4 separate regions of the Homo sapiens genome follow, and all the other regions are reported to be linked to region 2. Evidence: microRNA targets listed by miRTarBase, many of them from high-throughput screens and not tested one by one. Region 2 holds a microRNA gene; each other region holds the end of a gene's coding sequence.

Region 1 (7,693 bases), not on the chromosome of region 2:
GCAGGCAGATCACAAGGTCAGGAGTTCGAGACCAGCCTAACCAACATGGTGAAACCCCATCTCTACTAAAATTACAAGAATTAGCCAGGCGTGATGGCGCGCCACCTGTAATCCCAGCTGCTCAGGAGGCTGAGCAGGAGAATCACTTGAACCCGGGAGGCGGAAGTTGCAGTGAGCTGAGATCATGCCACTGCACTCCAGCCTGGGCGACAGAGCAAGACTCCGTCTTAAAAAAAAAAAAAAAGAAAATAAACACAGACGCTTTAAGGATCAGTTAACAACAAGACACAGACTCTAATATTCACTGACATAAAGTTTCAGAAAGGGCAAAATTAATCTCTGGTGACAGGGGCCAGAACAGTGATGACCTGGGGTGGGGTGTGGGTTGGTCTCTCCTGTGAGGTTTGGAAGGGCAGGTACACACGCGTGTGCACTTACCAAAACCTACTGCACTGTGCATCCGACTGCACTGATGTCCCTGGCTTCTTTGAGGCAACTTGGGTGACAGGCCATCCTGAGCCAGTCATGTCTTGCCCTCCCACTCAGGGCAGGCAGGATGGGCTGTCTCAATGGCCCCCAAAGCCTGGAAGGCTGGAAGGGTGGCAAGGAGGAAACCCACAGTGGGTAGAGTTACAGGGGTCAGAAGTGGGGGCCACTGCCTGCTGGGGAAGGCCACTGGAGGAAGCTGGGGCAGAATGGGAGGGAAGCTGGCCCCTCACATGAATACGGGGAATTAGGAAGTGTTTTCTCCTCCACAATGTTTGGGAGAATTTGGGGATTTATGTCCATTCTTTAGCATTTGGTAGAATTCACCATCTGGTCCTGGGCTTTTCTTTTGTTGGGAAGCTTTTGATGACTGGTTCTACCTATGTGTTTTAGGTTGGTTCAGATTTTTTCCTTTTTCTTCTTTTTTTGAGGTCAGGTCTCTGTCTCTGCCTCATTCCTGGCTGGAGTGCAGTGGTGCTGTCATAGGTCGTTGCAGCTTTGAACTCCTGGGCTCTAGCTATCCTCCTGCTTCAGCCTCCCAAGTAGCTGGGGCTACAGGCACGTGCCATGACACCTGGTTGATTTCTAAAGATTTTGTCGAGGCAGGGTCTCTGTTGCCCAGGCTGGTCTCGAACTCCTGGCCTCAGGCCATCCTCCTAACTAGTTCTCCCCAAGTGCTGGGATCACAGGTGTGAGCCACTGCACCTGGCCCTGTTCAGATTTTCTATTTTTCCTGGGACAATTTTGGTCATTTGTATCTTTCTAGGAATTTTTTTGTTGTTGTTTTGAGACAGAGTCTCACTCTGTCACCCAAGCTGGAGTGCAATGGCATGATCTCAGCTCACTGCAACCTCTGCCTCCTGGGTTCAAGTGATTTTCCTGCCTCAGCCTCGTGAATAGCTGGGATTACAGGTGTGAGCCACCACGCCTGGCTAATTTTTGTGTTTTTAGTAGAGACAGGGTTTCACCACTTTGGCCAGGTTGGTCTCGAACTTCTGACCTCAGGTGATCTGCCTGCCTCGGCCTCCCAAAGTGCCGCGATTACAGGCGTGAGCCACCACACCCAGCCAAGATGTCGCATCTTTTTAAATGTTGGCATTTGCAGCTATAAATTTCCCTCAGAGCAGTTTTTGCCGCATTCCTTAAGTTCTGGTATGTTGTTTTCATCCATCTCTATTTCCTAATTTTTCTCGTGATTTCTCCTTTGACCCTTTGGCTGTTAAAAAGTGTGTTCAATTTCTATGTATGTGTGAATTTTCATTTTCCTTCTGGTATGGATTTCTGGTTTTATTCCATTGTGATTGGAGAAGGTGGTTTGCAGGATTCCGATCTCTAATTTACTGAGACTTGCTTTGTGCACTAACGTGTGGTCTGTCCTGGAGAACGTTCCCTGTGCACTTAGAAACGTGTGTTCTGCTGCTATTGGGTGGAGCACTGTTAAGTCTGGTCAGCCTTTTGGTTTTTATGTAATACTTGGCACATTCACAAGAAAATGTGTGAAACAGAAAGTACGACAAAGTGAAACCCACGAAGCCACCACTGACCCTGAGGTTCAAAACCTCCAGCATCTCTGCTCTTCCCTAAGCACAGCTCCGTCCCCTCCCCACGGGTGAGCACTGTGTTGTACTGACTCCCTGCCCTCCCTGATGACTTTAGCACCTGGGTATGAATTCCACACATATTTGGTTTTGAGCTTTATAAAAATGGCATCATACTGTATGAACTGTCTTGCTTTTTCATCCCACGTTGTTTCTGAGAGGTGTTTGTGATGGAGCACAGGGCCACGGTGCCCATGCATTCCTCAATCATTTCTCCAGTCTTCTGAGGATGGGCTTCTGGGTTGTTTGCAGCCTTTTGCTTGTCCCAGTCTCCTAGTTTCTCCACTCCATCCGGGAGCATCACGTTTGCAACAGGCAGGGCAGGTGGTGCATCAGATGTCCAGGACACAGTCATTTGACACCCAAGAAAGGAGGGCCTGGGGCCTGCATCAGGCCATGGCTGAGTGGGACTTTGCCAGGCTGTCTCCGCACCCAGCGACAGGACTGTGCGTGCTGCTGCTTCTTTTGTTTCCTCCACTTCTGTTCCCTCATCCAGAGAGGGCGGAAGAGCTGGAAACAGAGGCTTTGTCAGGGAATAAGGAAGCCCACCTGTGTGGTCCCAAATGTCGCAGGGGCAACGCTCACACCAGATACCTCCCTCCTCCTCCTCCCTGCAGCCTCTGGGCTCCCACAGACAGATGCCCTCCTCTAGTGCCTCCAGGGGCAGGCCTTGGCCGCCAGCCTGAGGATGCCCAGCGCTCCCCTCCTCCCCTAGGTTCCTGTGTTCCCCCAGTTCTTGCCTCTCCTGCTGGCTGGCTGGGAAGGCCCTCAAGGATGGGGCCCAGGACTGGAGGAAATGGTGACCCGGACCCCCACCAAGCTGGACAGGCAGATGGTAGGCAGGACACACCTCTGCAATCTCTGGGAAGTGACAAGCAGAGGCCTCCCAGGGACAAGAGCTGAGAAGGATGAGCCCCTGGCTGGGCTGGGGCTGCCAAACAACTGTCTCAGTGCCCCAGGGCAAGCCCAGATAAGGTGACATAGTGGCAAATGTCTCTCCTGGGCAAGCCTGGGATGCTTCACAAAACAGCTCTTCAGCTGAAGCCAACTTGGAAAATTCCAGGGAAAAGGAAATTTACTATGGGGCGGGAATAGCCGAGCCTTGGCTTGAAACATCCAGAGCTCAACCTGGGGCCCCAAAAGCCACTTGAAGGTCGACCTGGCCCCCAGGTCCTGCACAAGCTTTGCAGGCACAGCCCAAGCTTTAGGCAGGTCGCTGGCTTACGAGGAGAAAATAGTCCCTGGGAGCACAAAGGAGGGACTCGGCCAGGCCCACCAAGAGGGAGTCCTTTAATAGAGATCGGCACAGACAGGAGACACAACAGCCCAGGCGCCCTGCTCGCACAGGCTGGGGCCCTGAGCCAACAGATGCAGTGGCTTCCTCCTCCCCCACCTGGGTGTGGGCCCATGGGGTGGAGACAGAGAGGTGGCTTTAAAAAACACAGCTGTACTAATTCTTCACTTTCACAGAGAAGGGGAACTTGGGAGCGCAGCCCGCTAGAGAATCTTTACACAGAGCTGAATCTGAGAGCCCACCCACCCACCTCGGCCAGGCCGAAGCTCACTGTCCCCCACCCATTGGAGGTTCCTCCCTGATCTGTCTGCACATGGGAAGGAGCAGAGCGCGCAGGGAGACCGGGCTGTACAACAGGAACATGCTGGCTGGACAGCTGGCTCCCCTCTCCCAGCTGTTAGTGTTTCTACACTATGTACATTGTTGTGCTTTGTAGCTCCCCCACCCCGAGGCCTCTGCTTGAAGCTGGGGTGGGGAGAGGAACCTGACACCACACACGGCTGGGCTGCCAGAGCTCCAGGCCCCCAAGAGGCTGCCATTCAGCGAGGTTCCAAGAGCTGGACTGCTGGGCACAGGGGCCACTGGAGCCAAAGGCCCAGGGGACAGAGCCAGCCCTGCCAGATGCCCAGCTCTGCCCAGTGGAGGAGTTGTTGAAACAGAAGGATCAATGCTGGACAAGAAGCAGGCTGGGTGGGGGCAGGCAGGGGTGGAAGGACAAGGTGTGAGGCTGTGAGACCAGGGGCGTGAGATGTGTGTGTGGACAAGGCTGGACAGGGCTGGGCAGGGGCACCTCAGCAAAAACCGTTCTGCAGCAGCAGGCTTGGCAGAGGGAGGTGGCAAGGGCTGCCGGCCTGGGAGCCCCTCCCATCGAGCACAGGGCTGCTTCCAATTCAGGGGCAGGGCTGGCGGCAGAAGGCTCTGGCTCCAGGTGTGTTTTGGGGGAGGTTTGGGAAAGACCACCGGGTGTCCCATGGGGCTGGGCATGAAGGGCAGGGCTGTGGTGACATCTGTGAGCGTGTCCCCGCCGGGCTTGGGGTAAACACAGGATCAGTTGTTCTCAAACAGAGAAAGCAGGTCGTCATTGTTGTTCGTAGGGAGGTCGGGTGGGCCCAAGTAGGACAGTAGCTCATCAGGGTTGGTCAGTTCCGGGAGCAGCTGAGGACAAAGTGAACTCTGTTAGCAGCTTTGGTCACTGACTGGCCACACCTGAGTGACCATCCTGTCACCACATCCCGGCCCTGTCTCCAGGCACAGTGGGGATGCTGAGCAGCCCCTCCTCACACACAGGCCGGGTGCGGGGCCCCACCATAGGCCTGCATGTGCTCAAAGAGGCACACGCCACCCCCTGGGACCTCCCTGCAAGGTTGCTCTGGGGCCAGAACAGCTGGCAACATGCTGTTCAATACCACCAGGAAACGGGATGTGAGGGAGTGCAGCCACTCCACACTCCCTCTGTGCATCAGCCTGCGTGGGGATCCCCACCGTGATGCCCCAAGGTGAATGCTGGTGGTGGAATTCCATGCCCCTAGGATTTTCTGCTTGGAGCTGTTCTTCCTAACTTTTTCATGTTGAACTTCTAGAATGAGTTTCATGTTGAACTTCTAGAATGAGTTTCTATTATGGTCCAGGGACAGTCAGTTCTGTCCTTCATGTACTGAGTTTGCACTCCCATTCCACCTGTGAGTCAAGACCCAGGGCTACTGAGCAAATGGACAGACGAAATTTGACTCTAAGGACCGTGCTGTCAGCTTCCAGTGCAGTCTCCTCTGAGACTCTGCGTCCGCCCGTACGGCATCCAGGCCCCTCATGAACACAAATGTGGTACATCGCATCCCACCCGCAGCTACTCCAGGTATCTAATTCATGAACAAAAGCTGCATTTAGTTGACCTTATCTGACCGGCTCTCTGAGGGGTCACTGTCTTCCCTTCCAGAACGCACCTGGAACAGACACACCACCTCTAGCCCTGGCTCCCACGCACTCCCCCGCATGGGGCCTGGTACTCACGTCCAGAGCTGGTTCTGGGGCCTCCCCGGCTCCAGACATGCTGGGGGGCCCCATCACGCCTGTGGCAGGACTGAAGGCCAGTTCACCCGTAGGTCCTAAGCTCGCTTGGCCCAAGGACTGCCGGGACGCTGGGGGAGGGTTTGAATGGTGCAGCTGGGGACCTGGAGGGGCCCCAAGGTTGGAGGTGTGTAGTCCTGGTGTCCCAGGATTGTGAGTGGGGTCCAGGTGACCTGCTGGTGCCATCTGAAGACAGAGAGAAGAATTTGTTAAAACAGCTCAGGGGCTCCCCTGGGGAGACAGGGCCCCTTGGCCTCTCGGCTTGGCACTGACCTGGCTTGGGAGGCAGGCGGTAGACTTCTCTGAAGTCAGGAGGCTGCTGGGAATGTCAGACTGGTAGGAGATGGGGGGTGGTCCCGGGGTGAACTCAGCAAGGGTTGGGGTGCTGGGCGTGGTGGGTGGGAAGGACTCAGGGAAAGTTCCAGGCCCCAGGAAGCTGGAACCTGTGAGAGGAGAGTCGGGGCCTGGGTGAGGGCTGGGGAAGGCCACCGCTGGCAGAGGAGCCAGGAGGGAGGCTGGCTGTGGCATGGGTGGGACTTGCAGTGCTCACCCACAAACAACAGCGGGTTTTGCAGAAGTCGCTATTTGGAAAAGGGCATTTCTTCTCATTGCTGCCAAGGGAATTGGCCTTGGGACATTCCTAGGAGTGAAGGTCTCGGAGGTTATAGGAATGGGAGCAGCCACAAACAAACGCACCACGCGTGTGAGGTGGGTCCCAGAGGGGGGCCCCAGATGGGGCCAGTCCTGTGAGGTGTTCCAGCCAGGAGCCCCTTAATCCAAACGGGGAAGGAAGGGTGGAGGCCCCACTGTCTGTTTCCTGGGACCATAGCTGAGACTGTGCCTTCACCGCCACGTCCCTGAGATGGGAGGGGCTGGAGGTGCCCCGCGGCATGTTTTGTGTGGCAACACTGATAACCTAGGTGTGTGACCTGCATAGCCACATTCTTGCAGGTGAGGAGACTGATCTGGGGAGAGGAGCCATATGCCCAGGGTCATCTGAGGTTCAAGGCTAGCCTGCTGTACTTACCCTGGCCAGGGTAGTCGCTGGGGGCAGGGACTGAGGGGGGCTGCAGGGGGGCAAAGGGGGCAGCGCCGGGGCCCAGGGCGGCGATCATCTCCATCACGCTGGGCATGAGCACGTGGGCGGGGCTCACGGTGCGGCAGCGCTTCAGTGCTGGCCCATCCGGCTCCTCCTTGATGTGCATGTCAGGCTTCACGGGCACTGGCTTCCAGCTGCACGTGGGGTCGATGGTGATCTCCTCATAGTCAGAGCTGGGCAGGGACAGGTGGGGAATGGTTACCTCCTGGCCTGCTGCTGGCCCGGCACCCACTGCCCCTCCCAGCCCTGGGCTGTTTCCAGGCAGGTTCCCCCACTCAAATGCTTGCTTCCACCCAGCACCTTCCACATCGAGCAGGACGCTGGGCCCAGCACCAACACTCAGGTAGGACACACACGCTGTCTCTGGCCTGGAATCCAGCCTGCTCCATGCCGGAAAAAGGCTGGAAGGCTGCACTTGGCAAGGGACATCCCCCGACATGTCCTGGGGCTGCCCTCCAGTGGCCACAGATGCAGGGATCACAGGAAGAGGATGCTTACTTCTGAATGTAAATCAGGATGCCCAGCATGTACTGGTCCACCTCCAGGCCCTCCAGCAAAGCTGTCTTGCTGTGGGGAAAAAAAGGGACACAGCTCAGAGACCTTGCACAACCCTGTCCTGGGCACAGGCCCTGTCATTTCTCAGCCCTGTCAGCTGTGACCCTGCATGAGGCAATCCTGTGTGAGGCAACTGAACAAGGTAACTCTGTGTGAGCTGACCCTATGTGAGGTGACAGTACAAGGTGACCCTGTGTGACTGACCCTTGTGTGAGGTGAAAATACGAGGTGATCCTGTGCATGTGGTGACCCTGTGTGAAGTGACTCTGCACAAGGTGACTGCATGAGATGACCCTGCATAAGGCCACCCTATACGAGCTCTCTGCGCTGAGCTGCACAACCCCAGTCCATGCAGTGACTCCTCCCAGCAGGCTCGTATCTTTGATGATGCTGTTGGAGGTTTCACCCATGAAAGCCTCTAAAAGCACCAGCCCCTCCTCCATCACACGCTGCATCTGAGACTCACTTGCACACAGGACACCTCCAAGTCCCCCGCTCACAGTTGAGCTGCAGGTACGACTCCAGGTCAAAGCACTGTAGAGAGATGGGAAGAAAGTCAGTTTCTCATTGTGGGTAGCACAGGGAAAATCTGGTCAC
Region 2 (3,000 bases):
CCTCGGCCCTGGTCTCAGTAGCCTTTCTGGGTCCCAGGGCTAGCCAAGATGAACTGCTGCCAATGGCTGAGAAATGTGGCTGCTCTCTCCTGGTTCTCAGTGAAGGACAGGAAGGAGCTACAGTAGCCATGAATGAGGGTTTCTTCCTAATGTTCTCCAAAATGCCCAGAAAAAACTAACACATCAATGTTTATTTCCCTCCACAGAGAGTCCGTGACTCACGGTAAATATGCAGAAAGGATAAAAACCATTTTCACATGTTACGCGGATCAAGACCAAATACTCAAACCTGGTAAGGGAAACAAGTGACACACTGTCGAGAAGGAATTTTCACTGAGGATACTGTCTCAACCGTCCCTCTAAGTTCCTTGGAGGTGAGTTAATTACCAATCAGTCGATTGACAAATGCCCCCCATCTTGCGCAAGGTATCTTTTCACCAAGCTAAGCTGCCCTCAACAGGCAGGGAGTTTTACTGCTGTCTCTTCATACTCACCAGAAATAATACACTTTGCTCCTCACAACAGGCCCGTCAGCAGCCTCAGAGAACCATGCCAAGCAGGGTTTCGGCAGAAGGTGGCTACTGCCTCCAGACCGGGCAGCCCCAGCCTGCAGCAGCAAAGGGACCTCACCAAAGGTTCTGGAGGTCCCGTGACCTGCCTTCCCTCAAGCCAAACAGCTGAGGGGGGATGTGAAACCCCAGCTGCCTCTTACCTTTGCCTATGACGAGGCCACACTTATCGGCTGGCACCGTGTATGTTATCTCCTGGACGCCACCAGGGGCTCCCACGCTCCAGTCGCCACGGCCACGACCTCTTCCTCTGGCTGCTGCCAGGCCTCCAAAGCCGTCTCTTTCCTGGAAAGATCACAGGGCTGTAGCGACCTCTGCCACTGCCACAGCACCACTGCTCCTCTCTTTTCCAGGGAGGAGGTTAAGTGACAGGATGTAATCAATGCCACCCATCAGAACCTAGCACCTTTCCACACTTCCCATTCTGAAGGGCTCTTTCAAGCCAGAATTAACACCGATCACAGGTGTATCTGGGGAGGACCTGTGCAGACGAACACACGTGGTTACATAAACAGCTCAAATGTATCCAACAGAAATAGGCAGACACAAACTCCAAGGCTGAAGCCCAGCGGCCTTTCTCCCTGGAGCTTTCCTCACTGGGCCCCGATCTACAGGCATCAAGAACTGCTTTCTCCCTTGCAGCTGAGGCCCCTCTTTCCTGCGGCGGACACATACTGGGCCTATGGGAAGTCAGATATGCACAGCCTGCTGACCCTCCCCAACCAGGCACTGCTATGAGTCACAACACCTGGCACTCCAGTCAGCAAGAAGGATAAACGGATTTTACTCAGTTTTAGAAAACTTCTTGGCTGTTGTGCCCCCAAGCAGCAGCAGCAGTAACAGGTTCAAGAGTGACCATTCAGGGATACTTCAGAAGGGAGGAACAGAGGGAACCTGCCAAGGCCTCCTCCCCATGTGGGGCTGGAGAAGTCTCTGAGGCATTCTCCCACTGTTCACCCAGCAGAGAGAAAAACCTAAATCTAACAGCGGACAGAGGAAGAGCCCTTTCATTGAGACAGCAGCAAGTCTCATTCCAGCCGCTGTCCGCGGAGTCATTTTGGAGCTGCAGTATTTAAACTCTCTTAAATGTGGAGGGTGAACCTGGTCAAGCTAAGAGCTATTTCATGGAAGGGAGAAGCTGCACAGACTTTTCAACACATGAAGAAATGTTGGGCAAAACCTGCTCATGTTGATTAAGAGTAAAGTGAACGTTTACCCAGAATCTAAACCAGCAGAAAGCTGAGACAATTGGAGTGCTTTTCCCCCGCACTCTGCTCTTATGAGACAACTGCCAAGTAAACAAGGCAATTTTAGAATGGATGTTCACACACGCACAGGAGCGCACAGTCAACTTTCTGGGTATGCCACAGATCTCGAAGAAAAGGTTTTCTCCCAAACATCTCGCAGCCTCTGCAGTGCAAGGTTCATAAACTTTTTTTGAGACAGAGTTTTGCTCTTGTTGCCCAGGCGGGAATGCAATGGCAGGATCCTGGCTCACTGCAACCTCCGCTTCCTGGGTTTAAGCAATTCTCCTGCCTCAGCCTCCTGAGTAGCTGAAACTATAGGCATGCGCCACCACGCCCGGCTAATTTTGTATTTTTAGTAGGGACGGGTCTCACCATGTTGGTCTTGAACTCCTGACCTCAGGTGATCCACCTGCCTTGGCATCCCAAAGTGCTAGGATTACAGGCGTGAGCCACCACGTCCAGCTAATTTTGTATTTTCAGCAGAGACAGGGTTTCACCATGTTGGTCAGGCTGGTCTCGAACTCCTGACCTCAGGTGATCCGCTTGCCTCGGCCTCCCAAAATGCTGGGTACAAGAGTGAGCCACCGTGCCTGGCCAAGGTTCATAAACTCTTGCTACAAAAAAAGGATGTTAGAGATCATTTAGAGCAGGGGTGTTCAATCTTTTGGCTTCCCTGGGCCACACTGGAAGAACTGTCTTGGGCCACCCATAAAATACACTAACATTAATGATAGCTGATGAGCTTAAAAACACACACACACACACACACACACACACACACACACACACACAAAATCTTGTAACATTTTAAGAAAGTTTATGAATTTGTGTTGGGCTGCATTCAATGCTGTTCCTGGGCTGCGTGCAGCCCACAGGCTGAACGAGCTTGATTTAGTGGCCGTTTTATAAACTTGTCTAATCTTAAGAATTGCCTGGGTCTCTAGTGAAGACCCAAGACCCTCCCTTGGAAATGCTGATTCAGTAGATCTGGGGTGGGGGCCTACACATTTGTAATTTGAGTAAGAACCACCAGATGGCTCTTAGGGGATCACATAGAGAGCACTGCCTGGTGCAAAGCACCCTGAGTCTGCTGCTGGGAACACCAGACCCAGAGGTTCAAAGGCAGCTCCAAGGTCACATGACTGATGGCAGAGCTGGGACTATAATTTCCAATCTCTTGCTTT
Region 3 (7,693 bases), not on the chromosome of region 2:
GTGCAAGGCTTTCAAAAGGATCAGGAAGACAGGTCTCACAAAAAAAGCATTTCCAGGCTTTGTATTTTACAGACCAATATTTTTGTGTTTTGTTTTTTATTTTGGGGAGGAAAATCCACACAGGATTATTATCTTTTTACTTTACCAAGTAGAGACATTTTAATAAAGCTTTACCATCCTTTCATAAGATAATAGACCTGTTAACACAAGCCAAGTATGAAGTATAATCACAGAATAAAGGACAGTCTTTCCAGGGAAAAATCATCGGCACACTGGATACGGGTCTTTGTTTTACACTATATAGTCCCTCTCTGGCTAGTTTAAGCACAAACAATATATTATGGAGCCCAGATAGATAGTTCACAAATCACTGGAAAGGCTGTAGGGATATACTCCAAGTTGAATTCCATATTAACACCCCAAACTATGCCACGTAACTTACCACTGAGGGAGCTGCTGCCACAGCCGCTGACCACTCTAGCTCCTCAAAATGAGCACCAGCTCTGTGCCCTGTTCAGCTCCCTCCATTATTCCAAATTACCCCTCCATATTCCAAATCAAAGTCCTGCATGAGTCCCAGCTGATTGGCTGAACCTAAGCATATCTAGATCCCCATCTGCCAAGGAGTCTGGGAAACGTAGTTTTAGTTTTCAGCCTCTGCAGTACAGGGAGGCACAGGGGCTGGAGAAGGCATGGAGTGAACCAGTTAGCCACTGTTGGTGAGCTTTTTGTCAGACCACAGCACTTCTAAAACATGTCAAGGTCTAAGCCTGGGTTACAGAATCACATTTGGGTGTACTGGCATGAGAGCCATCCTAAGGAATGTGTGCAGTCACGCTTTATTGAGAAGATTCTGAAGGTCAGTGGTCTTACACAGGCACCTTATCAAGGTTCTGACAGATATGGTGTCTAGTGAGGGCCCTCTTCCTGGTTCTCAGACCACCATCTTCTCATTGTGTGCGCCCATGTGATAAAAAGCAGACAGAAAGGAAGCAAGCTCTCCTGTGTCTCTTCTTATAAGGGTGCTAATGCCATTCATGAGGGCTCCACCTTCATGACCTAATTACCTCCTAAAGGCCCCACTTCCTAATACCATCTTATTGAGGGTTAGGATTTTAACATATGAATTTTAGGGGCATAGAAACATTCAATCCATAGTACATCCTCAGTCTACTCTGCTGCCAGAACCTTGATATGGCACCTACTGAGTGAATGGCTGTTCTTAAGAAGGGAATTTGCTGCCTGAGGCTACAGCATGACCACACTCTGACTGTAGTAGACATCTGTCATATTTGTGGCTTCTCATCAACTTTTGAGTAGCTTTCCCGTATCTGGGGATATTCTCATGTAATAAGTCTCATCTCCCTAATATTGAAGTCAGAGATCGAGTCAGAGTTCAGAGCGTTCAGGTGTCTTTGCAGCTAAGATTCAGGGATGTGGTCTGAGCTCTCACAACCCAAGGCCTCCACTAGAGATTTGATTCAGAAGTGAGTAGCATAAAGAGCAGGCAGTGCACGGAGCTTCTGTTTTTGCTGGCATGGAAGGCAGCAGAGGCCTTAGCTTTCAGAAGTGGTGGTGAGGGGCCGGGCACAGTGGCTCACGCCTGTATTCCCAGCACTTTGGGAGGCCGACGGGGGCCAATCACGAGGTCAAGAGAGCAAGACCATCCTGGCCAACATGGTGAAACCCCGTCTCTACTAAAAATACAAAAAGAAATTAGCCAGGCGTGGTGGCGGGCACCTGTAGTCCCAGCTACTCAGAAGGCTGAGGTAGCAGAATGGCGTGAACCCGGGAGGTGGAGCTTGCAGTGAGCCGAGATCGCACCACTGCACTCCAGCCTGGGTGACAGAGCAAGACTCCATCTCAAAAAAAAAAAAAAAAAATGTGGTGGTGAGGTCTGGTTCCTGCCTCAGAAGTAGCATCAGTGGTGGTGGCAAGAGTGGCTGCAATAAAGTCAAGTTCCTGGTGTCCAGTGCTCAGTAGCAGCAGCCATAGTAATACCAGTTTCCCTCCATGATCTAGCCCTACAGCACAGTTTAGGGCATTGTTCTTGGAAACTTTACCCCAAATCTATTTCTCCACCCTCCAAATGATTGTTTGTCCTTCAGTTTCCTTTATTAAATCCCATCTGCCTCAACTAGCCAGAGTGAATCCTGTTGTCAGCAACCAACAACCCACTTGATGTGCTAGATAAGCCAGGAACACTGACCCTGAATCTACTGCCTCTACACCAGGCTGCAGTGTGAACCATTTCTGCAACAGAGAGTATCGGCCTGAACCTCATCTCCCATTGCCTTCTTGAGTCAGGTACAAAGAAGGATGGGAGGAAAGCGTACTTCCTTCTGACTCCCAGCTTTCCAGGAGCTCCTACAGAACAAGAATGTTTCTTCTTCACTGGATTGTTATCACCAACAATTTGTGCAGGGCTTAGCACAGAGTAGGTATTCAGCAAATGTTTGACGAATTAATAAATAAGTGAATGGTAAAAACACTATAAAGTTATACCCAGCTGGATTCCTAACCCAGATCTGTGCTGTCCATTAACAGTACCCACTAGCCACACATGGCCACTAAACAACTGAAATGTGGCTAGTGCAATTGAGGAACTGAATTTTTATTTTATTTCAGTGAACTAAAATTTAAAAACTGATACCTAATCCCATTTTTGGAAAACTTTTGGCTCATTTGTGTATGTAAATGTACATTTTAGCTATAAATTGTATAAAAGCTGAATACAGATGAAATCTTTCCAATGAAAAATTAGCATACAAATTGAGATGTGGTGTAATTGCAAAGTATACACCAGATTCCAAATAATATAAAAAAGAATGTAAAATATACTATTAATGTTATATTGATTACATGTGGAAATAATATTCTGAATATATTAGGTTAAATGAAACATTAAAGTTGACTTCACCTATTTCTATTTACAATTTTTGATGTGACTACTAGAAAGTGTAAAATTATATATGTGGCTTTCATTGAATTTCTGTTAGCACAGATCTGAACATTAGCATAAATATTGCTCAGTGGTCAAAGGGGATGCCAAGGACACACATTTCCTCTGAGCACTAGAGGCTCCAACCCCACAGACCTAGGCCCAACCTTACCCTTTCATTTCCCCATCGCCTTTCCCCAGACTCCAAATCCAGCAGGAGGAAGTGTAGACGTGGGCCTCTGCAACATGTGAAAAAGCAGAAATCACAAACGCAGTGTTTTTCAGCAGGTGATTTAGGCAACTCTTCATCAGGGAAAGGGCTGGAAGTAAGGCCACAAGCAGTGATCAATTGTTTGCTATTTGAAGGCAATTCAAAAAGAAAAAAAAATCCCCAAGTGAACGTTCCTTGGGTGACCAGTGTGCCACCTCTGCATAAGTCTATGAAATCAAAGGCCCTGGGACAGCCTCTAATATGGTAGCTTCATTCCAAGGAAGAGTTTAAAGCACAAAGAAGAGCTGTTCTAGTTAGTATGAGTCAGGGCTAAATGTTAAGTCTCCTGATGCTCACTGGGGCACACCATCTCTCAGCATTAGGTGCCAATACATAACATGCCAAATGGGTTTGATGTGAGAAAGGAAGTGTCTGCCTTATAGGAATCACTTGGCCTGCATCTACCCCAGGATTTCCAAGCCTCCCTTTGCCAGCACTGGAAACGCATTTTGAGAAATTGGAGTTGGGGCCAGAAAGCATTCTATTCCCATCACTGGAATCTGTGTGGCTTCTATTTGCAACTCCAGTAGATGTGAAACTCTTAAAATGATTTTTTCCAGGGTAGGAAGGAACACAATGATGTCTTTGGCTAAACAGTGCCGGGCTACTGCACAGTTCAATCCTGAGCTAAGTGAAGGGGGAAAAGTCCGGGGCACTAATCTGGCGTGACTGGCAGCACCCGATGGGGTAAGGAGGACAGATGAGAAGGGTAGGAGAGGACTGGTGGGGATAGGGGAACAGGGAAGGGATGGAAAGGCCTGCTTCTGAAGGCTTGCATCTAACAGAAAAGGAAGGGAACCTCCCTGACTTACCATGCGGGACCCAGGTAATTTTCATACTGGAAGCACAATCTACAAAATGCTTCCCTCCAACCCATCCCCATAGGTACAATTTTACCAAATAAAATCATTCATACTCACATCCAAATTTGCCAATCTGAGCAAAATATAGTTAGTAACAAAGGAAGGCAATTTTCATATTTTATCATTCATCATAGAAAAAAAGCTTTAATATTTTTTAATTAAATACAGAAGAAAATTGTGTTGCCAGAGAGATTGTTTGCCTGCCTTTGAACAAATTAACAACACCTGTTTGCAAACAAAAGAATTTCCAGAATGGAGTCAAACCCTTTATTCTCTGTTCAGGACCCAGCCCATTCATGTCTTTTGTATACAGTATCAAACACATAGTAGGTGCTGAATAAGTATCTGCTGACTGAATGGGGTGCCTCTTTTATCCCTATCCTTTATTTCCCAACCCTAAACTGGATCTTGATCCATGGGGAAAATATCCCCACCCATCCATTCCTAGAGTAGCCCTGTCTCTTTCAACAGTCTTTGATACATAACATTGGTTTAGAGACATATGCCTGAAGGGAAAAGAGGGAGGGTTTCAGGCAGAGAAAGAAACACACAAAGACAGGGCACAGAGACTAGGCAGAAACAAAAAGATCTAAGACAGAGAGAGAGAGTAACTGAAACACAGGTGCAGAGCGGGAACAACTGTGGGAGACAGGGACAGAAAAACCAAGTCAGAGAAACTTAAAACGCACACCATTGGAGATAAAGAGATAAAAGGGCTGGGCCAGAATGATCATCTTGAAGTTTCTACTCAGCTTTAATGTTTTCTGATAGAGAAAATGGCAGAGAGAGAGGAAGACACGGCCTAAGCAGGAGGATAAAGAGACAAAGGAAGTTAGTAGAGGCAGAGGCAGCCAGCCAGGCGTGCCTAGCCGGGAAGCCTGGTCCTACCCCGGCCTCACACCCACGGGGATGGGCTCCCATGCCCACTTTCGGCTCCTACCTTAAGTCCAGCCACCCTCTTCCCCTACCCGCCCCTAAAGATCTCCAAACCACTCGGCAAATCAAATCCTCTCTCCCCAACATCCTCCGTGAAGCATTCTCGCTGCTCCAGCCCGCACTCAGCTCTTCCCCTCTCAACTCCTAAAGCCACACCCACCTCCCCTAACCACAGGGCAGGGCTGTTTTCGAGTTTGCCCTTGGCTCCTATGAGCACATCTTGACTCCTGCAAAAGAACTGTGTGCTTGTCAGGGCTCCAGACCCTACCTCCTATATTCCAGTATTCTTCATGACACCAGCCCAATGCCCGGTCTTCCTAAGTGCTCAGTGAATACTTTAGGGCCTGACCGGCCCTAAAGTGCACGCGGGGACCGTGGCCGTCCCCTGGTCAGTTTGGCAGGCTGGCCACGCTGAGGCCATCTCCTGGGCTCCTGCGCCCTCTGCCGGCCAGGAGGGGACCCGCACGCGGGACAGCTCGCGGCCGGAAGGGCGCGCCTGCTGCTGGGAGGCTGGCGAGGACGCGGGCGGCCCTGGCACCGTCCGAGGGTTCTGGGAAGGGTGGTGGGCACAGCCAGGAACAGCTGCTGTGTTCCTCTTAGGCGTAGGAGAACAACCCCTCTCGCCCCTACACCTCCTCCGGCCCTGCCCGCTGGGCGCTCAGAGCTTCTCGTCCAGCTCCAGGCCCTGGTTATCCCGGGCGCCCCCGCGCTCGGGGCCTGGGCTGCCGCCGTGTGTCCCACTCAGGTAGTTCTGGATGGCGGAGGCGCAGTCTAGCCGCTCCATGACGGTCATGAGGTAGTGCAGCTCCTGCAGGCTGCCGTTCTGCTCCTCAAACAACTCCAGGATGGCCGCTGCGGGGCTGCGCTGGCAGGACAGGAACCTGGCCCGAGGTAGGGGAGGAAGAGAAGGGTGTAGGAGCAGGGAGGGGCTCCCCCCCTGCTGCAGGCTCCCTGGGCTGCGCAGCGCAAGGTCCGTCCCTTCCCCATCCTGTAGCTTTTGTCCTTGTCCTGCTCTTGCCTGCCTTCCAGGGCACAGGAGGTGGGAAGCCCCAGGGCTTTGAAACTTGAGATTGTCCTGGCTTGGAGGCCAACTCTGACCCCTACTCCTCTCTAGGCTTCAGTTTCCTCTTATTAAGATGAGGGCTTAGACAAGAGGACCTCTAAGTTTGCTACAGTTCTGATGTTCTGTAATTGCCTTCTCTACCTCCCCCACTCCAAATACACCCCTAGCCTCCCCCTAGCCTCCTAACTCCCTCCTTCCTCCCTCTCTCCTAGGCCACAACATCCTGCTCACTACTAAGGAAACAGTTGCTGTAAACCATGGCTTTTTATCACGACTCTCCCGTCCACTAAAACCTTCCAGAGTCTCTCACCTCCTAACCAGCCCACGCTCCATGAGCCTTTCTGGCTCATCCAGCACCTGGCCTTGCCCTGTCTTTATGCTTTCTCTCCTTTCTCCCATCCTGAACCCCCTTAGCTCAGGCCTCTCTCTTTCTCGCCTTGCACACACTACACCCACAGCCACCTCTGCTACTCCCCAAAACAAAATGGCTGATCTCTTCCCCATCACTTCCTCCCTGAAGCCCTTTCTAGTTCACCCCTCCCAGGTGGAAGAGAACATTCTGCATCCCTCAGTTCAGACTTCTGGTCATAACGCCCGCAGTTCATTATTATTCTTGCTTCAGCTGTTTTCTGTCTCTCTTCAATGTGTTATACAATACTGGATTCTTACAGGAAGGCACAAGGAACACTTGCCTTTATTTTTCAAGCTCTCTGAACCCTTTACTAGTGTGTGCGCTCCTAGGCGCCGGGACCATGCCTCATTCATCTTGTATCATAGTGCTTAGCACAGTTTCCAGGGCATAATAGGTACTTGATAAATGTTTAAATGAATGATTTAAAAATCCACCCTGTAGTTTGCAGACCAGCCTGGCCAACCTGGTGAAACCCCGTCTGTACTAAAAATAAAAAATTAGCTGGACATGGTGGCGTGTGCCTGTAATCCCAGCTACTCGGGAGGCTGAGGCAGGAGAATTACTTGAACCCGGGAGATGGAGGTTGCAGTGAGCCAAGATTGCGCCATTGCACTCCAGCCTGGGCGACAGAGCAAGACTCCGTCTCAAATAATGATAATAATAATAAATAAAAATCCACCCTGTTTTCAGGGTCCAGCTCTAGCCCCATCACCAGGATAAAGTCTTCCCTGACCGCTGCACTCATAGTGTAGTTTCTGGAGCTTAGCTCAGTATTCTCCTGCTTTCTGAGTTCCTTGACAGGGATCATGACTGCACTGTCACCATTATTGATAACATTTATTGAATTAACAAGTGTCAGGCACCCAGCTACATGCTTTACACACATTATCCTATAATCTGTCTTGCTCCTCCTCAGGGCATAGCATGGCAAGCACTCAACATGTACCAAATAACTTCCATGTTAATGGATTCACTGTTAAATGTTAATTGAGCACCTACTATGCACCAGGCATCATTCTAGGTACTGATGATACAGTGATTAATAGAGCTGCCCTTTTATGGGAAATAGGGTGGACAGTAGCCATTCTCTGACTTTTAAGTCACTCCCTTGCCTGTGATCCAGTCTCCAGAGTGTCCTGAGGAACCCCATTCCAGCCCACCCTCCTCTACCATCCACAGACCTCACCCCTCTTCCTACCGGATCTTC
Region 4 (6,756 bases), not on the chromosome of region 2:
TTTTTTTTTTTGCGACGGAGTCTTGCTCTGTCACCAGGCTGGAGTACAGTGGTGCGATCTCGGCTCACTGCAACCTCTGCCTCCTGGGTTCAAGCCACTCTGCTGCCTCAGCCTCCCGAGTAGCTGGGGCTATGGGCACGCACCACCACGCCCAGCTAATTTTTATATTTTTAGTAGAGACGGGGTTTCACCATGTTGGCCAGGATGGTCTCCGTCTCTTGACCTTGTGATCCGCCTGCCTTGGCCTCCCAAAGTGCTGGGATTACAGGCATGAGCCACTGCGCCTGGCTGATTCTACTAATATCAACTGACCACTTTTGCTACTGTGTTCTAGGCACTGGGAATACAGCCATGATCTAGACAAAATCATATTCTCATGGAGTTTTCATTTTAATTAGGGAGAGAAACAACTTAAGATAATTCCTAGCTGTGTGGCCTCAGTTTCTTTAACCTTAAAACAGGTATAACAGTAATATTATGGTTGTTTTGAGGATTAAATGAAAAAGGCCAGCGTAGTGGCTCATTCCTGTAATCCCAGCACTTTGGGAGGCAAAGGCAGGAGGATCACAAGGTCAGGAGTTTGAGACCAGCCAGGCCAATATAGTTAAACCCCGCCTCTACTAGAAATACAAAAATGAGCCGAGCGTGGTGGTGCACGCCTGTAGTCCCAGCTATTAGGGAGGCTGAGGCAGGAGAATTGCTTGAACCTGGGAGGCGGAGGTTGCAGTGAGCCGAGATCATGCCGCTGCACTCCAGCCTGGGCAACAGAGCGAGACTCCATCTCAAAAAAAAAAAAAAAAGAAGAAGAAATAAGCCTAAATTACATACATAGTACCTGTGGTAAATGTTCATTATGTGCTCCCTGTTACTGTTACTGGGGAAGGCTTCCTTATCAAGGGTTTCAATCCTCTTTTGTGCTATTTGTAGGTAATTCAGTACCAAACTGTTCGATATGATATCCTCCCCTTATCTCCTGTGTCCCGGAATCGGCTAGGTAAGTATGTGGTGGGAAGCCTCCTTTAGGGTGAAGTAGGGGCTAGCTCTGGGTCAGAGGTCGGTCAATATTATTCCTCCCCACTCTGGTTCAGCCCAGGTGAAGAGGAAGATCCTGGTGCTGGATCTGGATGAGACACTTATTCACTCCCACCATGATGGGGTCCTGAGGCCCACAGTCCGGCCTGGTACGCCTCCTGACTTCATCCTCAAGGTGTGTGGTGGTGGGGAGTGATGAAATGGTTCCATCTGTTCCTCTGCCCAAACCTGGACTCCCTTTCCCAGTCCCAGAGCATCTGTCTCCATCCGCTGGCACCAGTGTCAGCCTGGAGGAGGGAAGCAGATGGGTGGGGCGTTTTCTAGGCCTGGGTTGTGGTGGTCATGACATCCCCCAGCCCATCTTGTTCCTCTGTAGGTGGTAATAGACAAACATCCTGTCCGGTTTTTTGTACATAAGAGGCCCCATGTGGATTTCTTCCTGGAAGTGGTGAGTTTTGGAGAGCTAAAGGGAGCTCTGTAATGAAGGAATGGTTTTAGGGCTCTGGGAATTGGGAGGATTTGGAGGAAGGGGTGAGGAGAAACGGGTTAGAGCAGTTTTCTAGAGGGGAGGCTGTGTAATGGTAGGGGAGTGGCTTTCAGTACTTGGGGTTCATTTGTTGTGCTGATGTAATTCTTTTCCGCTGGCATCTTTCTCTTTTGTTCTTGCATTTCTGAATCATAAGAGTGTAGGATGCCTAACACTGAGTTTGGAGGTTTGGGCTGGGGGTTCAGAATTTCGTGTCCTCAGAGACATTTGATGTTGATGGAAGGCCTGAAGGACTATGCCATTGCCTTTCTGAAAGATAACTGTATGTCTAAAGGAATCATCACCTTGTATGGCATCGCCCTCTCCCCCAATCTATTTCAGGTGAGCCAGTGGTACGAGCTGGTGGTGTTTACAGCAAGCATGGAGATCTATGGCTCTGCTGTGGCAGATAAACTGGACAATAGCAGAAGCATTCTTAAGAGGAGATATTACAGACAGGTAAGCTAGAATCCCAGTCTAAGAGTGTGGCTTGGGAGGGAGGCCACCAGGGAGGGATCTGGGTTTGAGGAGAGTATCCTGGAGAGAGGCCTGCTACATGATCCCCTGCCTTCCAGCACTGCACTTTGGAGTTGGGCAGCTACATCAAGGACCTCTCTGTGGTCCACAGTGACCTCTCCAGCATTGTGATCCTGGATAACTCCCCAGGGGCTTACAGGAGCCATCCAGGTACGGGGGAAGGTGGTGAGTCTGGCAGGACCAGAACATGGTTCTGAGAAGGTATTTTTGCAGGAGACCTGGGCTTTGGTCCTTGAGAGCTGGGATTCCCTAGATTATCCCTAGTTTGCTGTAAGTCGAAATGCAAGTTATTTTTGTGTTTCAAATGAGATACCATATATGTCCATTTCATAAGTCGGATTTCTTATATCATTTTTTTCATTTTTAAAATTTATTTTTGGCTGGGCACGGTGGATTATGCTTGTAATCCCAGCACTTTGGGAGGCCGAGGCAGGCGGATCACGAGGTCAGAAGTTCGAGACCAGCCTAACAAACATGGTGAAACCCCATCTCTACTAAAAATAGAAAAAACTAGCCAGGCGTGGTGGCGCACGCCTGTAATCCCAGCAACTCGGGAGGCTGAGGCAGGAGAATCGCTTGAACCCGGGAGGCGGAGGTTGCAGTGAGCCGAGATTGCACCATTGCACTCCAGCCTGGGTGACAGAGCGAGACGCCGTCTCAAAAAAAATAAATAATAAATAAATAAAAATAAAATTTATTTTTATTTATTTTTTGAGATAGGGTCTCACTCTGTTCCCAGGCTGGAGTGCAGTGTCATGATCATAGCTCACTGCAGCCTCGATCTCCCAGGCTCAAGTGATCCTTCTGCCTCAGCCTCTCAGTAGTTGGGACTACAGGCGTGCACCACCATGCCCAGCTAATTTTTTTATTTTTTATTTTTTTTTGAGACAGAGTCTCGCACTGTCACCCAGGCTGGAATGCAGTGGCGTGATCTCGGCTTACTGCAACCTCCGACTTCCAGGTTCAAGCAATTCTCCTGCCTCAGCCTCCCAAGTAGCTGGGATCACAGGCACCTGCCACCACGCGCAGCTAATTTTTTGTATTTTTAGTAGCGACGGAGTTTCACCACGTTGGCCAGGCTGGTCTTGAATTCCTGACCTCGTGATTCGTCCGCTTTGGCCTCCCAAAGTGCTGGGATTACAGGCGTAAGCCACTGCCCTTGGCCAATTTTTTGATTTTTAGTAGAGAAGGGATCTCATTATGTTGCCCAGGCTGGACTCAAACTCCTGAGCTCAAGTGATCCTCCCACCTCGGCCTCTCAAAGTGTTGGGATAACAGGTGTGAGCCACTGCGCCTGGCCAAGTGTGTTTCAAGTGAGGCACAATGGCAGTAAGCTTGACTAGAAGCATCAATAGGTATGAGATCTGGTGATTAAAACTTAGTTTCGGAGCATAAACCAGGAAAGTTTTACTTAGGTTGTTGACTTCCGGTAGTGGGAGGCATATATTTTTAACAATAATTCCTCCTTCCCTCCAAGAAGAGAAAAACACCGTCTCTCTTGAATTCTGTTTCTTCTCATCTGCATTTTCACCCACCCTAGACAATGCCATCCCCATCAAATCCTGGTTCAGTGACCCCAGCGACACAGCCCTTCTCAACCTGCTCCCAATGCTGGATGCCCTCAGGTAAGGGAAGTGGGCTCTGGACACTTGGATATCTCAAGAAAGGAGGAGGTGGGGGATCCTCAGAGGGAATAAAAAAGGTTTGTCCTGTTTTAACTCTGTTCCCTTAAGAATTTAACATTTGGACCCAGGTCGTCTTACTTCAAAGCTCATCACTTTAGCTAGTAGGCTGTGGGCAAATTGAACCTATCTAATCATGAATATGGTGATAATTTAGGTCCCACATCTCCAGTGATGCTGCCTTACAAGAGTGTTGTGAGGGTATGAACTATAAGGTACTCTACCAATGCAAGTTATTGTCACCCCAGGTTCACCGCTGATGTTCGTTCCGTGCTGAGCCGAAACCTTCACCAACATCGGCTCTGGTGACAGCTGCTCCCCCTCCACCTGAGTTGGGGTGGGGGGGAAAGGGAGGGCGAGCCCTTGGGATGCCGTCTGATGCCCTGTCCAATGTGAGGACTGCCTGGGCAGGGTCTGCCCCTCCCACCCCTCTCTGCCCTGGGAGCCCTACACTCCACTTGGAGTCTGGATGGACACATGGGCCAGGGGCTCTGAAGCAGCCTCACTCTTAACTTCGTGTTCACACTCCATGGAAACCCCAGACTGGGACACAGGCGGAAGCCTAGGAGAGCCGAATCAGTGTTTGTGAAGAGGCAGGACTGGCCAGAGTGACAGACATACGGTGATCCAGGAGGCTCAAAGAGAAGCCAAGTCAGCTTTGTTGTGATTTGATTTTTTTTAAAAAACTCTTGTACAAAACTGATCTAATTCTTCACTCCTGCTCCAAGGGCTGGGCTGTGGGTGGGATACTGGGATTTTGGGCCACTGGATTTTCCCTAAATTTGTCCCCCCTTTACTCTCCCTCTATTTTTCTCTCCTTAGACTCCCTCAGACCTGTAACCAGCTTTGTGTCTTTTTTCCTTTTCTCTCTTTTAAACCATGCATTATAACTTTGAAACCAAAGCGGCCTTAGGTCCTTCTCTGGGGTTTTGGGAAGTGAAGAGAGGGGACTTTGTTCACATGCACCCTGTCCCACAGGCAGAGGGGGAAGAGACTGCTGTTGGACTCAAGGGGCAGGGGGAAAGGTGGCGTTGAGTATAGGGATAGAATAATGCGGACACCAGATGCCTGGGATACAATAATGCTGACACCAGATGCTTTGGCGGGAAGGGCCGAGTGACAGGATGGGCGCGCTGGTGGGGAGTGGAAGGACACCTTCGGAGAAGCAGGCTATGGAAGCACGAAAGGAGAAACCGGCTATGGAAGCACGAAAGGAGAAACCTGGACGGCCAAAGGGCGTAGAGCTGGAGAAACCGGGCTTCGTCCGGGGCACTGACGTGGACAGGTTAAGCGGGCGCTGCCCCCAGGTGGCTGGCGCCCCGACCTCCGCTGTCCGGGAAGGCGTCGGTCCCCCTCCCAGCTGTCGCCCAGCCGGCCCCGCCTCCCCGGCGCCCTCCCAAGCCGGCCCTACTTCGCGCACCCGCCACGTGACGCTCCGCCCTCTTTGAGATCACATGATTTAACTCAAGTCCCGCAGTGTTCCTCCGCGCTGGCGTAGTCCCTACCTTTCCAACCTCCTCTCCAGTCCCTATTGGTCTACTCATTTTGGCACTTAAGCGTTCTGTAGATCTCTCCAAACATCTGTTTTCTTTTTGACTTCTTATTTCTGGAGATCATCTCCGCCACTTGGGTACTACTTTGTTTTGGTGTCAACGGCCGCCTTCAGCGTAGCAACACGGTTCGTGAATAGCTAACCTTGTAATTGTCCCTGCTGTTCCTCTACGTTGTTAACGAAAGGAACTTGGAGAACCAAGTCTCGTATGATGATTACCATCTTTTACTCCTCTTCAGCCCCAGCTTCCTTGAGGGGACGGTTGGGGAATAGGTTTAGAGTAATTTTCGATGAGCAAAAGCCAACCGTCTTTGCTACGTCGCCTGCGTAGCCCACAAATTGATTCCAAAGCGATTACGCTAATGGCGTGAGGGGGCCGGTCAGTTGGTGGTGCTACGCTAGCAGCGTTAGCGCCGCTGAGGTAGTGGCGTATCTTAGCGGGGGGGGCAGTCCCCGATAGTCGGGGGCGGGGTTGGTGAATAGGGAAGTGGCGCAAATTCGTGGATCGCTCCGCTGAATCCGCCCGCGCGTCGCCGCCGTCGTCGCCGCCCCCCGTCCCGGCCCCCCTGGGTTCCCTCAGCCCAGCCCTGTCCAGCCCGGTTCCCGGGAGGATGAAGTTCGTGTACAAAGAAGAGCATCCGTTCGAGAAGCGCCGCTCTGAGGGCGAGAAGATCCGAAAGAAATACCCGGACCGGGTGCCGGTGAGGACAGTAGCCAGGGCCGAGGGCGCGGGACGCTTACGCTGACGCCACAGCCTGGCCTTGGATCGGGACAGGCAGCGCAGGGATCAGGCTGCTGGCTGTGGTGGGGTTGGCAGCGAGCCTGAAACTGCTGTCCTTGGGACCCAGGATGAAAGGAGTGGGGTAGTGGTGGATGTGGGGTTGAGAGGGATGTGGACAGGAGAGAGAAACCTTAGCATTTGAGGCCTTAGAGAGTTTGACAGCCTGAGCTTCAAATGGTCATCCCCCCAGCTAGCTAAGGTTGCGAGATTGAATCACTAGTCGACCCAAACAAGTCACCTCCGTCTGATTAAGATAGTTGTTTATGGTGACGCCCTATTGGGGGATGGATCCTGGATATTTAAATGAGCTCCAGTCAGTGAGGTCAGGATCTCTGGGACTCAGTGCTGCACCGCGTGTACAAAGACAAAGAGATGAATCTGGGGTAGATTTAGGTGCTAGGAATATTGTTTCTTGAGTTCTTGACAGGTGCAGCTTCGGGGCTGCATTCCTTCTGTCTCCTAATTTTCATCTCTTTATCAGGTGATAGTAGAAAAGGCTCCCAAAGCTCGGATAGGAGACCTGGACAAAAAGAAATACCTGGTGCCTTCTGATCTCACAGGTGGGAACCTGATCCAAGACTCAGGCTTGCTTCCTGTGGGTGGGAGTGCAGTCTCTGCGGGAGGAGGCTCCACCTAGCAGCTGTTC

What was found. Region 2 holds the annotated microRNA hsa-miR-6856-5p (AAGAGAGGAGCAGUGGUGCUGUGG, at 893-916, opposite strand). A microRNA usually pairs through its seed, bases 2 to 8, with sites in the 3' UTR of a target mRNA and lowers its output. Matches are read on the target gene's strand: a 7mer-m8 pairs with bases 2 to 8, a 7mer-A1 pairs with bases 2 to 7 and ends in A, and an 8mer does both.
Region 1: the mRNA of ZMIZ2 is a reported target of hsa-miR-6856-5p. Seed matches in the 3' UTR shown: 7mer-m8 at 3,505-3,511 and 7mer-m8 at 2,579-2,585.
Region 3: miRTarBase lists UNC5CL as a target of hsa-miR-6856-5p. Seed matches in the 3' UTR shown: 7mer-m8 at 4,861-4,867.
Region 4: the mRNA of CTDNEP1 is a reported target of hsa-miR-6856-5p. Seed matches in the 3' UTR shown: 7mer-m8 at 4,206-4,212.

The regions. Positions count from the first base shown.
Region 1 is chr7:44,764,356-44,772,048 of GRCh38, reverse strand. It overlaps ZMIZ2 (zinc finger MIZ-type containing 2), which reads right to left. Exons shown (of 19, transcript NM_031449.4): 14 at 7,563-7,630; 15 at 7,040-7,108; 16 at 6,470-6,714; 17 at 5,716-5,885; 18 at 5,386-5,628; 19 at 2,168-4,533. The coding sequence ends at 4,426. Among named protein-coding and RNA genes, the nearest start is that of ZMIZ2, 19 kb to the right of the region's middle. RefSeq lists enhancers at 3,565-3,704, 3,539-4,065.
Region 2 is chr9:130,624,218-130,627,217 of GRCh38, reverse strand. MIR6856 (microRNA 6856) reads right to left here and starts at 921; the gene lies at 855-921. FUBP3 (far upstream element binding protein 3) reads right to left here. Exons shown (of 19, transcript NM_003934.2): 12 at 713-854.
Region 3 is chr6:41,022,704-41,030,396 of GRCh38, forward strand. It overlaps UNC5CL (unc-5 family C-terminal like), which reads right to left. Exons shown (of 9, transcript NM_173561.3): 8 at 7,685-7,693; 9 at 4,192-5,892. The coding sequence ends at 5,670. LOC101929555 (a long non-coding RNA gene) reads right to left here and starts at 577. Exons shown (of 6, transcript NR_110873.1): 1 at 443-577. RefSeq lists enhancers at 5,006-5,075, 5,146-5,345 and a silencer at 5,486-5,595.
Region 4 is chr17:7,241,515-7,248,270 of GRCh38, reverse strand. CTDNEP1 (CTD nuclear envelope phosphatase 1) reads left to right here. Exons shown (of 8, transcript NM_001143775.2): 2 at 928-994; 3 at 1,089-1,207; 4 at 1,409-1,480; 5 at 1,901-2,017; 6 at 2,134-2,245; 7 at 3,636-3,720; 8 at 4,026-4,680. The coding sequence ends at 4,086. GABARAP (GABA type A receptor-associated protein) reads left to right here and starts at 5,822. Exons shown (of 4, transcript NM_007278.2): 1 at 5,822-6,030; 2 at 6,592-6,670. The coding sequence starts at 5,941. RefSeq lists silencers at 5,060-5,169, 5,760-5,949 and enhancers at 5,562-6,113, 6,114-6,665.